Linked DNA regions of Homo sapiens: region 2 is linked to region 1. A link means that fine-mapping ties the variant in region 1 to the expression of a gene that starts in the linked region. Tissue or cell type: whole blood. Region 1 holds a variant in brackets; the other region holds the start of a gene. All regions are shown on one strand. Distances are from middle to middle.

Evidence for each region. PIP is the estimated chance that this variant, and not a neighbour inherited with it, causes the effect.
Region 2: SPON1 starts here. The variant in region 1 is fine-mapped to the expression of SPON1 in whole blood (INTERVAL, PIP above 0.99).

What each region holds. Positions count from the first base shown.
Region 1 is chr11:14,002,184-14,010,366 of GRCh38, reverse strand. All of the region lies in intron 2 of SPON1 (spondin 1), which reads right to left. Among named protein-coding and RNA genes, the nearest start is that of SPON1, 44 kb to the right of the region's middle. The variant T/C (reference allele first, on the strand shown) is at 3,955.
Region 2 is chr11:13,959,406-13,967,588 of GRCh38, reverse strand. SPON1 (spondin 1) reads right to left here and starts at 4,866. Exons shown (of 16, transcript NM_006108.4): 1 at 4,447-4,866. The coding sequence starts at 4,684. It overlaps LOC124902637 (a long non-coding RNA gene), which reads right to left and starts at 4,432. Exons shown (of 2, transcript XR_007062602.1): 1 at 2,544-4,432; 2 at 1-548. RefSeq lists an enhancer at 1,063-1,581.

The DNA of each region.
Region 1 (8,183 bases):
CAGTCTGCCCTTAATCCCATCCCCCTCTCATCTCTAGACATGAATCCTCTTATATGGCCCATCTTTTGCATCTACTACAGGGTTGCCAACCACCTAAGTCTAGATATCCAGCCTGCCCTCTGTCCTTAGCTCCCAGCCCAGATTCCCAAACAAGAGTGTACCTCTCCAGCTGAATTAGCTGTGGGGCCCTCCAACATGGGCAAAACTGAGTTGTGACCCTTCCACTAAACCTTCTCCTCCTGCAACTGATCTCAGCCTTGCCATTATTCCATTATCCCTTCATTTGTTCCTGCAGTGCATACCTATTGAGCATCTCTGTGTGTCAGACAGTATGCTAAGCACTGGGAATATAGTGGCCCCTGTCCTCATTTGATGGGAAAGACAGACATTGATACAGTCTGAATGTTGACAGCCCCCTCCATCAAGTTCTTATGTTGAATCTAATAGCCAATGTGATAGTATTAAGTGGTGGAACCTTTGGGAAGTGATTAAGTGATGAGGGCTCCACCCTCATAAATGGAATTAGTGTCCTTATAAAAGAGACCTGAGTGAGCTCTCTTACCCTTCCTCCACATGAAGATGCAGCAAGAAGGTGCCATGTATGGGGAACAGGCCCTTACCAGACAACAAATCTGCTGGTGCCTTGATCTTGGACTGCTCAGCCTCCAGAATTGTAAGCAATAAATTCTGTTGTTTGTAAATCACTGAGTCTAAGATATTTTGTTATAGCAGTCTGAATGGACTAAGACAGACATGAATCAAATAGTCACCAAATATGAACACAGTTCTTACTGGGAAATTTCTATGACAGATATATGTGCAACGAGAACATAACAGAGCATATAATGGTGCTAAGGAAAGATTTTCCAAGGAAGCAACTTGCTATATATGAGCTGAGATCTGAAGGCTGAGTGGTATTTATTAGGAAAAGTTGGGTTGGGGCAGAGGGGAATGTTCTAAACAATGAGGAAACATTTCTCTACACATACCCTGGGGCAGGAGAAAACTGGGAGCGTTCATAGAAGACCAATGTGTCTAGAGCTCAGGGAACAAGGGAAGATGACACAAGATGAGGTGGAGAGATGAGTAGGGGTCAGGCCTTTCTGGGCCTTTTGGGCTGTTAAGGAACTTTGTCTTCCTCCTGAAATTAGTGATAAATTATGTGAATACCTTCAACAAACATTTATTGAACAGCTACTGTGTTTCTGGCCCTTTTCAAGATGATGAGGACACAGGGAACACATGAATGGAACTAAGTCCCTGACCTCATGGAGCTCACATACCAATCACACACAACTGAAGGCAGCTTAACAGAGCAATTGTGAGGTGCCAAAAATGGATGCAGAAAGGTTACTATGGTCGTCCAGGAGTATGTGATGACAGACTGGACTCATAGCAGGCTGAGAAGGGGAGAAGTTGGTGAATTAGAAAGACTTACAAGGTACCATCAGCAGGACTTAGTGATGGATTGGCCAGGGGGTGGAATTTTGTTTGTTGTAAGGTTTTTAAATTGTTCTTTTAAGAAGGAAAATTCCTGAAGGAAGAGTTTTAAAACTTGAGCTGAAGGGAAGGACCTTATCAAGAAGAAAAGGCTGACTCTACAAAACAAAGGTGGGGTGATTGGCCATTTAAGGTTCCTGAGGAAGCAGGAGAGAGTGGTATCCAGAGCCTGAGTAGAGATGGTCTCAGGACAGGGATGGAGAGATCCATTATTTTAGTAGGAGAAGAAGTGAGGAAAGATGCAGGTAGGTTTATTAACTTTAGCAACAAGTTAAGAAATTCTGGTCCAGGTCCAGGGATTTCTTTTTCTTTCTTTTCTTTTCCCCCCATAGAGAACACAACAAGGTCACTTGTTGAGAATGATGTGGGAAAAGTGATGTGACCCATAGGTGGGTCAGGAATGAAAGGAATCAGCATTAGGGAAAGTGGGAGGACAAGCCTTCCAGAGTAATTTGGTCAGATTGCCAGGCAGGTCAAGGGCCCTCCAAGGTCAGTGGTCCTGCATAAGTGTAAATGGTAGGAAGAAAAATGTCCCCGCGAAATACAATCATTCCTTGGTATTTGTCGGGGGTTGGTTCCAGCATCATCCTGTGAATATCAAAATCCACAGCTACTCCTCCCATATACTCCTTCTGTATACTTTAAAGCATCTCCAGATTACTTATAATATCTAATGTGATGTAATACTTTGTAAATAGTTGTTATACTGTATTTTTAAAATCTGTATTAATTTTTAATTTTTATTTTTCCAATATTTTTGGCTGAATCAGTGGATGCAGAACCTGCAGATACAAAGGGACTACTGCATGTTCACTTCTAATCCCCAGAAAGTGTGAATAGTACCTTATATGGCAAAAGATATGATTTATTTAAGGATCTTGAGAGGAGATGTTTATTCTAGACTATCTGGAAGCCTTAAATGCAATCATATGTATCCTTAAAAGAGAGTGGCAGAGGGAGCTTTGAGACAGAGACAAGGAGAAGGCCACGTGAGGATGGAGGCAGAGAGTAGAGTGATGCAGCCACACACAAGCCTGCTGACAGTCACCAGAAGCCGCAAGAGGCAAGGAACAAATCGTCCCTAGAGCAGGAGTCCCCAGCCCCCAGTCTGTGGCCTGTTAGGAGCTGGGCCACACAGCAGGAGATCGGGGTGAGCCAGCATTACCGCCTGAGCTTCACCTCCTGTGATGGTTAATACTGAGTGTCAACTTGATTGGATTGAAGGATGCAAAGTATTGACCCTGGGTGTGTCTGTGAGGGTGTTGCGAAAGGAGATTAACATTTGAGTCAGTGGACTGGGGAAGGCAGACCCACCCTTAATCTGGGTGGGCACCATCTAATCAGCTGTGTGGGCACCATCTAATTAGCTGTCAATGAATATAAAGCAGGCAGAAAATGTGAAAAGGAGAGACTGGCCTAGCCTCCCAGACTACATCTTTCTCCCATGCTGGATTCTTCCTATCCTTGAACATCAGACTCCAAGTTCTTCAGTTTTGGGACTTGGACTGGCTCTCCTTGCTCCTCAGCTTGCAGACAGCTGATTGTGGGACCCTGTGATTGTGTGAGTTAATTCTTAATAAATTCACATATATATCTCCTATCAGTTCTGTCCCTCTAGAAAACCCTAATACACCTCCTGTCAAGTAAGTGGCGGCATTCAATTCTCATAAAAGTGCAAACCCTATGGTGAACTGCACATGCAAGGGATCTAGGTTGTGTACTCCTTATGAGAATCTAATGCCTGATGATCTGAGGTAGAACAGTTTTATCCTGAAACCATTCCCCCTACTGCAGCCCATGGAAAAACTGTTCTCCAGGAAACTAGTCCCTGGTGCCAAAAAGGTTTGGGACCACTGCCCTAGAGCCCCCAGAGGGAGTGTGGTCCTGTTGACACCTTAATTTTGGCCCAGTGAGATGAATTTTGAATTTCTGGACCCCAGAATTGTAAGATAATTAAATTTCTGTTGTTTTAAGCCACCAAATGTGTGGCAATTTGTTACAGCAGCTCTAGGAAATTAGCATGATGTGAACTGGCCAATCTGCACTGAAATGTGACTTTTTCCAGGTGCAGGGCTCAGGTGTAAGCACAAAGAAGAGAAAAGATGTGTTCATTCAGGGCTGGAGTTTTGCTAGATTGGTGTGAGGACAAGAGGCAAAGAAGTTATGGGCTATGGCAGAAGTGTTACTGAGATGATGAGCTTAGCTAAGGAGGGAAGAGGAGAGAGGAGAGGGCAGTGGTGGGATGAGGAGACAGCAGAGGGTTCAATGGACCACCGGTCCACCACGTGCGACCAAGCAAAAAGCCTCAGAGTCCTACTCAGCCCCCTGCATTCAACTCATCAGTTGTTAGCTCTTTGATGTCTGTGGCATTCATCTCCTGATGAGCAGCCTTCCTGATCTCTCACTGGAGTTCATGCCACAATCTCCTACCCAGCCTTCCTGCCTCTGTTCTTA[T/C]CTTCTCCAAGCTCTTCCATATTGATGAGAGCTCTCTTCCTAAGTTGAAAATTTAATCATCATGTTGTTGCCTAATCTAAAACTCTTTGGTGTCCCTCTCCCCTTGCCAAAAAAAACCAAAAAACAATTTCTGCTAGCAGGTACTAAAAGGATAAAGCCCATAGTCCCAAACTGGCGTGGAAGGGCATTTAGATGACAATTCATTAGTTTCATCTCAAGCCCTAACCTTGCACTAGCAATCCAGAACTCCTTGTCATTCCCAGATTATAGCTCACTTTTCCTTACCCTGTCCCATTATTCATGCTCTGCCGAGACTGCTCTTTCTATAGCCCTTGAGATTCAGTTAAAGATCAGCTTCTCTAATGTTACCCTAATAATAATTACTAATGTTTATTAAGTACTGGTATGTTAGACATCATGTTAATTGATTTTCCTAGGATGATCTCATTTGATTCACCCTCCAAAGTGGGTAATATTATTATTCCCCTTTTCCAAGCAGGAAGAAACCGAGCCTTAGAGAGGTCATAGAGCAGAATTGTAGATTCAGGATTTGAACCCAGGTCTCTCAGGCTCTAGAGTTGAACTTTCAACAGTCTATAACATTCTATTGAATGACCCTAAGTCCAGAAGCCCTTTGTGCATAGCCTGAAGGCATTGAGATCAGAATTATGAATGTTATAATAATACTTAGCAACTTACTATGTGCCAAGGACTCTAATGATCATCTTTACAGCTTTGACATCTTTATTATTTGTTTTTCAGACAGAGAAACAAAGGTTAAAAGAGTTAAAGTTACACAGCAAGAGTAGAACAGGGGCTTACATTCCCTCTGTCTAATTTGAAAAGCCCCAGGCTTAATTTACCTTAATTTAGCCCAGGGTCTAGAACATCAAAGTGGGCCACAAATCTCAACGTGGAGCATGAATGGGAGTCATTATCACGCAGATGGTACTCAAAGCCATGGAACGGATGAGTCTAATTGTGCAGAGAAAGGACAGAAAAGGTTACAGGACAGAGTTTGGAGAGTGCATCATTTAGAGAAGCAGATCTCAATGGGGATGATCTTGTTCTCTAGGGGACATCAGAATCAGACAATATCTGGAAACATTTTTGGTTATCACAACTGGTGGGGCCAGGGGCCAGGGGTGCTGCCAACCATCCCAGAGGACACAGGGCAGCTGCCAACAACAAAGAATTATCTGGCTCAGAAATCATAAATCTCCTAGAAGAGAAAATAGCAGAAAACCTCCTCAACATTGGCCTTTGTAATAATTTTTTTGGATATCACACCAACAGTTCATGCTACAAAAATAAAATAAATAAATGGAACTACATGAAACTAAAAACCTTCTTCACAGCAAAGGAAACAAACAACAAAATGAAAAGGCATAGCCTGGGCAACACAGTGAGACTCCATCTCTAAAAAAATTTTTTTTAAATCATCCAGACATAGTGGCATGCACCTGTAGTCCCAACTACTCAGGAGACCCAGGCAGGAGGATCACTTGAGCCCAGGAGTTTGGGGCTGCAGTGAGCTATTATTATGCCACTGCACTCCAGCCTGGGTGACAGAGTGAGACCCTGTCTCACACAGAAAAAAGAAAGAAAGAAAAGGAAAACTACGAACTGAAAAAACAAACAAACAAAAAACTGCATTTCACATATCTGATAAGGAGTTAATATCTAAAATTTGTAAATAACTGTTAAAACTCAATAGCAGAAAAACAAAAAAACCCAACTAAAAAATGGGCAAATAACCTGAACAGACATTTTTTCCAAAGACAATATAAAAATGGCCAACAGGTATATGAAAAGGTGTTCAACATCATTAATCATCAGGGAAATGCAAATTAAAACCACTATAAGATATTATCTCACATCCATAAGGATAGCTATTATCAAAAAGACAAGAGATAGCAAATGTTGGTAAGGGTCTGGAGAAAAGGTAACCCTGTATGCTGTTGATGGAAACGTAGATTGGTATAGCCATGGTGGAAAATGGTATGGAGGTTCCTCAACTAAAAATAAACTATCATATGATACAGCAATCCGACTTCTGGGTATTTACCTAGAGGAGATAAACTCACTACCTCATAAAGACACCTGTGGACCCATGTTCATTGCAACATTATTAACAATAGCCAGGATATGGAAACGACCTAAATGTCCATGTTCATTTGGGAAAAGAAAATGTAGGAAATGTACAAATGGGGAAAGAACATGTACACGTGTGTGTGTGTGTATGTGTGTGTGTGTGTCTGTGTGTGTAATGGAATATTATTCAGCCTAGAACAGAAAGAGATCTTGCCATTCTCCACAACAAAGATGGACCTGGAAGACATTATGCTAAGTGAAGTAAGCCAGAAAGAGAAAGAAAAATATTGCATGATCTCTCTTATATGTGAAACATTTTTTTAAAAAAAGAGCTCAAATATGCAGAGATAGATAAGGGAGTGATTATCAAAGGGGGTAGAGAAGGAAAAAATAGGAAGATGTAAGTCAAAGGATACAAAATAACAGTTATATAGGATGAACAAGTCTAGAGATCTAATGTATAGCATGAGGATGAAAAATTGTATTACGGATTTTGGTTAAGTAGATTTTAGTTGCCCTTGTCACAAAAAAAGTAACTATGTGCAATGATGGATGTTAACCTACTTCACTGCAGTAACCATTTTACTATCTATATATATATCATTATGTATACTATCTATACATAACATTATGTTGTAAACCTCAAATATGGCCCAAATGCCAATAGTGCTTATGTAGGTCCCTTCAGCTCTCCCGCTTTCTTTCTGTGTCTTGATAGAAAATCACAGAGTGCCTTGACCACTCTGTGACCCAGCCAAATGTGGGTTATTCCCAGCAGGCTTAATCCCAAACTGGGGCCTTGAACATTCCCAGACACTGACAAAGGTATCTAGATTGTTGCCTAAAACACTGAAAGAAACTGGCCCCATCCCTGAGCCAAACTCCTTAAACCCTCATAAAAACTCCATACCCTGGACCCCTCACTGCATTTGTGCCTGGGCAGAACATCCCTTTTCTCTCGCTGTTCGGTGCAGGGATCACTGCAGCACTTCTGTAAGTAAGTTCCCCTAATAAATGTTTTGGACTGATCTCACTGGTGCTTAGTGCTCCTTTCTTTGGAATCCCAACCAGCCCCACTTCAGGATAGTGTGTTGCACTTTCTTGTGTGGGAACTCCCCTGCTGCCACTTTTTGGGGCAAAATACATAAAACCAGAAAGACATGAGAAGAGAATATTCTAGGAATCAGGGAGTGGTCAGCTCCCTCTGCGATACTGAGGAATGTGTGCAAGATGATGGAGTGTGCACGGACAACGCGGAGGCCATTGCAGAAACTGTCAAGACTCAAGAGCCATTTTGGTGGGGGTCGAGAAGTGAACAACAGCAGAGAAGTGGGTAAAACATGTGTAGGCACAACTCTCTTGAAGTGCTTGGCTGTCGAGGTGGGGCAGAGAAATGAGGTAGTGGTTGGAGGAGATGTGGGGTCCTAGGACTTTGGGGTTTTTTAAAAAAATTATAGGTAGATAGTAGAGGTACTATCTTCCTGGCCAACTTGAACCCCTGACCAGCTTTCTCAACAGTGCCCTGGTTCCCTGATTCTCTCTCCCCTTGGTGGATGCCTGTGCCCCCTATCTTCTACTGTGTTTGGGGTTTTCCAGTTCTGGGAAAACTGTACCATCTGTCTGCTTGGCTCCTGCCACCAGGCTCTTGGGAGTTGATGAAGAAAGTTACAAATCCAATCTCAAAGTCTCCTCTAGGAATATGTGTTTTCTAAACTGGGTCTCTGCTGCTACACGATCCTTCCATCCATCTCTCATGGACTCCCTACCACATTCCTCCTGCACTTGCTCCATCTCCCCAGTCTTCAGCCCTGTCCTTTCCCTCTGCAGATCAGCTTGCCTCTGTCTACTTGAAAAACATTTGTTGACTGTGTTTCAGGTCAGTCACTAATCAACATGCTTATGTGTTTCTTAAGGTGCTCTTTGGGGCACTTGTGTCAGATTCACATAAGATGCTTATAAAAGATGCAGGGTCCGCAGCCCCAGTTCCTCACCCCCTTAGGTGCACAGAATCAGATTCTCTGACTTGGGGCCCAGAGAGATGAATTACAAACAAGTATCCAGGAGATTCTGATGTTCATTACCAGTTGAAAACCATTGTTATAAATTATTTAATTTTCTCAGTAATTCTATAAGGA
Region 2 (8,183 bases), 43 kb after region 1:
ATGTAAAAACAAAACAACAGTCAAATCTGTTTTTTCTTTTTTTTTTTTTCTTTCTGGGTTTTTTTTTTCCTATCCAATTTGTTTTTGTTTCCCCACAAACAAAAGGAATTGGCCAAAGGCTGACAAGGTTCTTCATGTTTCTAAATTAATCCTCTAGTTTATGGGGAAATGCAACACTGAAGCCAATAAGAGAAAACAGCAAATGTGAATAAGGATTTATCACTTTATATTACTTTGTAGTAATATAAAGTAATTCTCCTGAGAGATGTCAGTTACTATCTTGATTTGTTGTTCTGTTTTCCTTGAAGGAAGGCTCACCATCCAGAAGGCTGAGGGTAGCTGAGTGAATTTCATTCTATTCCCAACTAATTTCATTGAGTCAGCACATAAGACTGGTTAAGAGCACAGATTTAGGAGTCAGACAGACCTGAGACTGTATCCTGATTCTGCTGATTATTAGCTGTGTGACCATGGATAAGGAATAAACTTCTCTGAGGTTTAGTCTTCTCATCCATAAAACAGTAACGATCAGAAACTTCCTCAAAGTACTGTAAGGAATAAGTGAGATGAGTCGGAAGAACTTAACACAATATCTTATCCAGGGCTTTGCTGCTAAGTATTTTTCTATTTCCAAAATAATCATCTCATAACATATTTTTTTAGCAACCACTGTGTGACAATTTCTTTTGACATGAATTATTTCTAATTCTCACAGGAATGCTGGGAAAAAATCAAAACACCCTCATTTTACAGATGGAGAAATTGGCTCAGAGAGGTGAAGTGGCTTCCTGAGATCACACAGTGAATATGTGACCAAGGAGGACCTGAAACCAACCCACCCAACATCAAAGCCTGTGCGCTTTCCACCAGGCTGAGGTGTCCACCCCTGTGGTCAGTGTGTGTCTCAGTGTGGGACAAAGGAAAAACCATGCAGCTTTGGAGGTCTCCAAACCTCCCAGTTTAGGATAAACCCCTCAATTATGCTTGAAGTTGGACCAGCTTTTGAAACCTCTACTGGACATTCTTTTCCCATCAAGTTCCTTGAAATGTCTCTTTAAAATACATCTAGGAAAAGCCACTCTCATTAGCCAGAGTCTGACTTTATTTTCCTAATAAACAGACCTCCAGTAAGACAAAAGAGCCTCTTTTATTTTCAATCAATTCTTGAATATTTCAGTGGATTTTCTTCTGTTTGGCTTGAAATTGTGATCTGGGAAAGGCTGGTCCTGCGAATTGTCCTCCTGTATAAGGGAAGCCCCTTGAGGATCCTCAACTTGTTATTTTTAATCACTGTAATCTCCTTTTCAAAGGAGGCCCTGGCCAGAAACAGAGCAGGCCTTTCAGAGCTTTCTAAAGCACAATTATTGCCGTTGGAGGGAGGGGGGACTGTGGGAAGAGGGAGGGAGAGTAGAGAGAAGTGGTGGGAAAGAAAAGGAAATCAATATAATACTAACAACTTGGAAAAGACAAAATAATGATCTCAACTGGATTCAGGTTTTGGGGAAGAAACTCCATGTTTCAGTCTTTTTTAATAGTGACCATTTTATTCCGGTCTAGAGTACCTAAAGACTGTACTTAGACAGCAGGCACAAAGAACAGAAGCTGCTTGGGGATGAACTGGAATACTGTGGACAAAGATTTGAGGCAGGAAAACAAGTCATTGATTCCAAGGATTGTGAGGAATCCTAATTCATGAAAAAATTAAAAAGCAAATAGAACACCAGGGGAATGCCAGCTTCACAGCCTTAAGTCAGGACAATGAGCAGAATGTGTTTGAGTTACTTTTAACATAATTATTCTAAGAAAGAAGGAGCCAACAGAAAATGTCACAAACTAGGCCAGTACCTTTTCTTTCGGACTTTGAGTGGCAGAATCAGGTTTGCTAATTGCAGGATATTTACTTGGAAAACCTCAGCATGGTTCCTGCAAGATCTCTTCCAAGGTCTTTTAGCCATAAGAAGGGAGAAAAGATGATTGCCCAATCTATAGCCTGAGTTGGGGTGTCAAAGTCCAGATGGCTGTTTAGGCAGGAGTAGCCTGTAGGGTGAAAGTCCAGGACACTCCCTATCCAGTCCCAGTTCCCCACCTGCTGGCCCTGGACGTTTAGGTAGTTCTGAAACCTCTTTGGCCCCGTGAATACCAGCTGTATCTCCTTCCCAGTGCTAGGGCCACCAGCTGCCAATGCTCAACTAAAACACGGAGGATTAGTGTGAAAAGAGACGCTGGGTACACTTGGCCTGAACCTCAGACTAGTCTAAGTCACTGAAAAAATCTTCCTGGGCTTGCATTAGCAACAGTCTTAGGCAAGGCTCCTGATATGAAAAAATACCTCATTCATTCATTCAATTAATTCATGAGGACCCAAATAACCACTGGTAGATGAATGGGACTGGAGGAGAGCTGAGGAAACCTGCTTTCAAACGCACAACACTCTTCAAAAACAAAAATCTGATCAAGAACCTACCTCCATTAGTAAACCAATAAAGGCCTCACATTCAACTGTTAGGCTTATTAGGAATCTCTTTTAGCTCAGGCACACTCACCTTTGTAAACTCATTTACTCCCTACCACCAAGAGAGGGTGGATAAACAGCTTTTTTTTTTTTCCAGCTAGGAAATAGGTGCAGAGAAATTAAATGACTTGCACAAGGTCACACAGCGAGTAAACCCAAGTCTGTTGGACTCCAGAGCCACTTCTTTCTCTGCTACGTGGAGCGGGGACAGTTTCCCCTGTGAACTCAGGTCCTCAGTTTTGGGGAGGGCCGAATAGGCCACTGAAGTCATACCCGCTTCCCTGCGGTCCACAGGGAGGATCGGCCGCCTCCCGGCTGCACCGAGTGGCAGTCGCCGCCCGTCGGCGCGGCTCGCTCTAGCCGCGGTGCCAAGCCGCGCGCTCCCTCCCGGGCTGGGCGGGGTGTTCTCCGCCCAGAATCTTTCTTCGTGGAGTACCCAGGATCCCGCGGAGCTGCGCGCCGGGGTCAGACTGTTCCTCGCAAAGTGCTCAGCACGCCAAGGTGCCAAGGGCACCAAGGAGCCGGCTTTGGGTAGCTCCGGGTGGAGAAAGTCGGGGACACAAACCCGGGAAAGGGGGAAAAGCGCTCCAAGAAGGGTGGCCCCTGGCTTTGGTCTCCGGCGTGACCCTGGCGCCCGCTGACGCTGCCCCAGACTTTCTCCTGTGTTGCTCCCACCGCTTCCGTCCAAGGCTCTCTGGGGAACTGGGAAGGCGAGGAGGAAAGTACAGCAGCTGGGAGCCCATTTGCCCCACCAGGTGCCCCAGTGACCCGCTCATCCCTGCTTAGCACCAGAGCTGACTTATGAAGGGGCGAGGGTGAGAGGACACGCTCCCTGGCGGGAGCTAAGGTGAGGCCAGACAGGCTCGCTTCCCTTCCTGGTTACCTGTCCCCCACCCGGAGAGCGGCTGCTGCTGCACGGGGAAACGATGTCTGGGGAGATGACCCTGCTGAGGAGCGAGGTGGCGGGCGTGGGGACAGAGTCAGGCGTCTTCAGATCGGTGCTGGTCGAACTGCCTGTCCCGCCTAGGAGGCTCTCACCTGCTTGGACACCTCCTCCCTGAGCTCCCGAAACCCCACTCTCAGCCGAGCGGCGTAGGCGCGACATCCCTGGGACGTGGAGACTCCGAGCTGCCGGAGCCAAGGTTCCCCGGCCTCCAGGGAGCAGGCCTCGGGCATCGGGGCTTCTCTTTCCATCTTCATCCAATTCCCCTTGCAGCTCGGAGCTTACCCCAAGCTCTTTGAGGACCCTGTCCCCACTGGGAACCTGTTCTGGAAACCCAAGATACTCTATCTCGTCTGGGACCACGAGAGAATAATTTGGGGTTCTTTCCAAGGACCCTTTCGAGGAGCTTTAGGCTGTCCCTGCCCCTCCTTCCCGCACCCCGGGACCGGTTAGGGAGAAGCCAAAGTCCCTTCTCCTGAAGGGACCTATCCAGGGAAGCCGGAGTGGCTGTCCCGCCCAGGGCCAGTCTTTGAGAATCGGGTACCCTCTCCTTCAGGGACTGAGCGGGGAAAGCTGGAGTGGCTGCCTTGCCCGGGACCCGACCAAGAGAAGCCTGGGTCCCCTCCAGACCGATTTGGAGAAAGGCAGTTTTACTTCCCTCCTGCAGACGGCCGGGGGAGAAGCGAGCCTCCCTTGCAGTCAGGCCGGCGTGACGTGTGGCTCAGTTACATCCTCCGCCTGGGAACCGCGCGTCGGAAACGCGGGGTGCCTCTCCTGGCTGCGGCCCCCGCGACGGCCCGGGACGCTGGATTATGATCCGCGCCGAGCTCGCGACTGCAAGGGCCGAGGGCAGCCAGGACAGAAGGGCCCTTGCCGGGCTGCACCCGCGCCACGCGCCCGGAGACCGCGCGCCCTCCTCCGGCACCGCGAGGTCGGCGCCCTCCGGGGACCGGGTCCCGCTCTCCTAATGCCACGCCGGGCGGCCACTTACCGCGGTAGCTGGTTCCCGGCTTGTAGAAGTCGGGGTCGCCCTCCACGCGGAGGCTGAACTCGGTGTAGCCCTCGCGCCGCGTGCCCTGGGCGCGCAGGATACGGCTGCAGTAGCCCTCTGACTTGGGCACTTTGTCCAGGGTCTCGTCGGAGAAGGCCAGCGCCGCGGCCAGGGGCAGCGCCAGGGCCAGCAGTGCCGGAGTCCGGCTCAGCTTCAGGGGCGCCGGGGACAGCCTCATCTTCGCGGCCCCCAACTTTGTGCCGCGGCCGCAGGCCTTCGCCACGCGACTCCTGCCCGAAGTGGTCCCGACGAAGGCGCGACCTGGCGGAGGCGCGGCGGAGAGAGGGAGCTCGGAGCTGGCGTCCGCGACTCGGAGACCGTGCCCGCCTCGGCTTGGCGGCCGCGGAGCTGCGCTGAGCTGAGCTGAGCTGAGCCAAGCGAACGAGAGCAGCGCGAGGAGGGGAGGGCCGCGGCGAAGGAGCGGGAGGAGGGAGGGCTGATTTTGCCCAGATCCCCCAGCGCAGCGCTGTTTTGTTTCCTCCGAACTGGCGATTAGCGGCGCGGCCGTGTTTATTTTGCGACGTTGGATTCCCAGGGTCTGACGAAGAAACCGTGGCATACCGGACCCTGTGGGCTCTGTCCCATCGCCTAGGAGGCTGCTGCTCCAACCCCCAGCTACACTCCGGACCCTCTGGAGGACGGCGCTCAGAGGAGGGAAAGCCTGAGAAATAACTTTTGTTGCACACCTGCTCTGTGCCTAGCAATATGCTTGGCGGCTTACTTACTGTATCGACTCGCCTTCATGTTCCCTACTCCCAATAAAGATTACATTACTTTCGCTCACTTTATAGATGAGCAAACTGTGACTTGCGACCAGTTACAGCAGGGTTAGATGCGGCGACTCCGGGCCCATTGCTCTTCCCAAGGCCATAGTGGAACATGTCAGACTGGAGGCTGAGAAAGGAGAAACGACTTAGCTACAGCGCTTAGGGCCCACGATACTTTTGGAGATCTATGAAAATGTTTTCTGTAAAAATCAGAAGAAAAAATTTATGTCAAACAAAATGTTTTACTATATAATGTTAATATATTTGTATTTATACCTCCACAGTCATAAAATATGCTTGACTTGGAGGAAAGAGCCAGCAAAGGCAAAAGTGCCTAAGGCTCAGGAAGGTCCTCCTACAGCCCAGGAAAGGAGTTTCCAAAGATTCAATGAAGAGCCTGTGTTTTCTTGGCTTACATTTTAGTTCAGATTCTCACTCCCCAGGGACAGATGTTCAGAGAGGTGCTGAGCCTGAGGGCCTGAAGGGAAAAGACCTGGGGCAAGAATCTCTCCCAGTGTCTCTCTGGGAAGAGACCCGAATCAAACCTCAGTCCTGCCACTCACCCATTGTGAAGCTTGGGCTAGTTATCGCACTCTCCAAGCTTGTTTCCTGCTCTGGAGAACAAGGAAGTGGGGGTGGGTGCCAGTACATCCTTCTTAGAGGTAGTGGGGTGATATGCTAGAAGTAAATGATATGACCCATATAAAACACTCTAGTTGGTCTCTAGTGGCGCCTGCTCCCTCACCCGCTTGGGGATACCATAAGCCCCCTGCCTCTCAGTGCACACAAACATCCCTCCCCAGGTGCCCTCAGAAGCTTTGGTTTCCTCGTCTTCTCTTTGCCCAGGGCCTTCGACACACCTCAAGTGCCTACAATTAGCAAGCAATCTCCTTTGCTTTCCAGGTCAGGGTTTTCTCTTTCATAATGCTACAAACAGGCCCAGGGCGCTAGGTGCATGGGAGATCTCCATTCCTCCCTGCCTGCCCACTTACTCCTTAGTGCTTGTGCTGGAATTCCCACTGCCACTATTAACTGGACGCCTTCTCTCAGAGGTCACCTGAAAGTAACCCCTTGCTGAAGCCAATTATGCTCTTCTCTCATCCCTAGCCCTTCTTGACCCTAGCAGCACCTGATCCAGCTGATCGGCCCTCCTTTTTGAGGTGAGGCTCAGATCCATGTCTGAGTGCTGAGGGAATTGTCTGCATCTTCACTCGACTGGCTCAGAGCTCATGCTGCACTCCAAGTTGCACGGTCCCATTCATCCAGCAAACTTTCATTAAGTGTAGATTTGGAGCTAGACTCTGTGCTGACCGGTAGGTAGAAGACGGAACAAAAATTCATCCATCCATCCATCCATGCATCCTTCTATCCATCCATTCATTCATGACAAAGACCCTCCACGTGCTCAGTGCTTGGATACAAAACACAGATATGTTACTTGCCTTTGAGGATTTTACAGGCCTGTGGCAAAGGCAAATATTAAATACATAATTATATGAATCTTTTAAAATTATAATTGTGATGTATGCTACAAACTAAAATAAGTGGTTCTTGAAAGTGTACCTGATCTTATCTCAGAGGGCAGGAAACTACAGAAATGAATAAATTGTGACCCCTGTCTTCACAAAGCTTATTTTATGTCTGAAAGCTCAAATCTGTGCTCTTGAACCTCTATTCATCTACAAAAGGTTCAAATCTAAGTTGGAGATGGGTGGGCATGAAGTAGGCAGGAATGCAATATTTAACTTTTTATTGGATATTGACAGGAAAACTATGGGAAGTAGGCAGTCCCAATTCACCTCCGCACTCCCATTGTTCAGATTAGGAGCCTATGAAATTACCTGCTGAGGTAATGTTCCATGGCTATTAAGGGAAAGAGCCAGGATTTAAAACAGGCATCCCCAACACCAAATGAGGTACTTTCCAGTACACAGTGTTCGCCCTATCATCTGGGCTATGACGGCAGGCTCTAACCAGCTCACCAAGCTCCAATCCCACTACATGAGCTAGGTTTTCCTAAACCAGCTTGGCTGTCACTCAGACCTCTGCTGTCTTCTCCACTCATCCGATCCATCACCACATCAAGTTTCACGCTCTTCTCCACCACTACCCCTGTCTGTGTTGACATCCTCTCTCATCTTCCTAACTGGGTTGCCCTTGTCTACTTGTGCTCTCCTTCCATCTGTCTTCTGCACTGAAGCCCAAGTGATCTTTTTAAAAATGCAGATTTGAATGTCAATCCTGAGGTTAACATTTTTTCTTGGTGGTTTTTCAGGGCTCTCAGAATAAAGACAGAATCTTCAGCCAGGCCTCCAAGGCTCTGCTTGATCTGCTTCTCCAGCCATGCAGCTCTTCTCTCATGGGCTTTGCCTGTGCTGTTCTCTCTGCCTGGAATCCTATCATGCTCTTTGGTCTCTCCTAGCCACCACTCTCCATTGGCCAACTCCTATGTACTCTTCAGATCTCAGTGCAAAACTGCCTCCCCAAAGAAGGCCTTTCTGATTTCCTAGAATAGATCCAGCCCCCAAAACTCTGCTGAAGCTCATGAGTACCTTTTCTTTTAATCTCCTCCTCCTCCTCCTCCTTCTTCTTCCTTCTTCCTCCTCCCTCTCCTCCTCCTCCTTCTTCTTTCTCCTTTCTCCTTTCCTCTTTCTTCTTTCTTCTTGAGGCAGGGTCTTCCTATGTTGCTCAGGTTGGTCTCAAACTCTTGGGCTCAAGCAATCTTCCTGCCTCAGCCTCCCAAAGTGTTGGGACTACAGGCATGAGCCACCACACCTGGCTTCTTTTAATATTAAGATTTATAATGACCCATTGATTTATAAGTTTGATGTTTAAAATTTTACATTTGTTCAGTATTTGTCTCCATTCTAAATTCTAAGCTCCAGAAGGGTAGGGGATGTCTATGGGGCT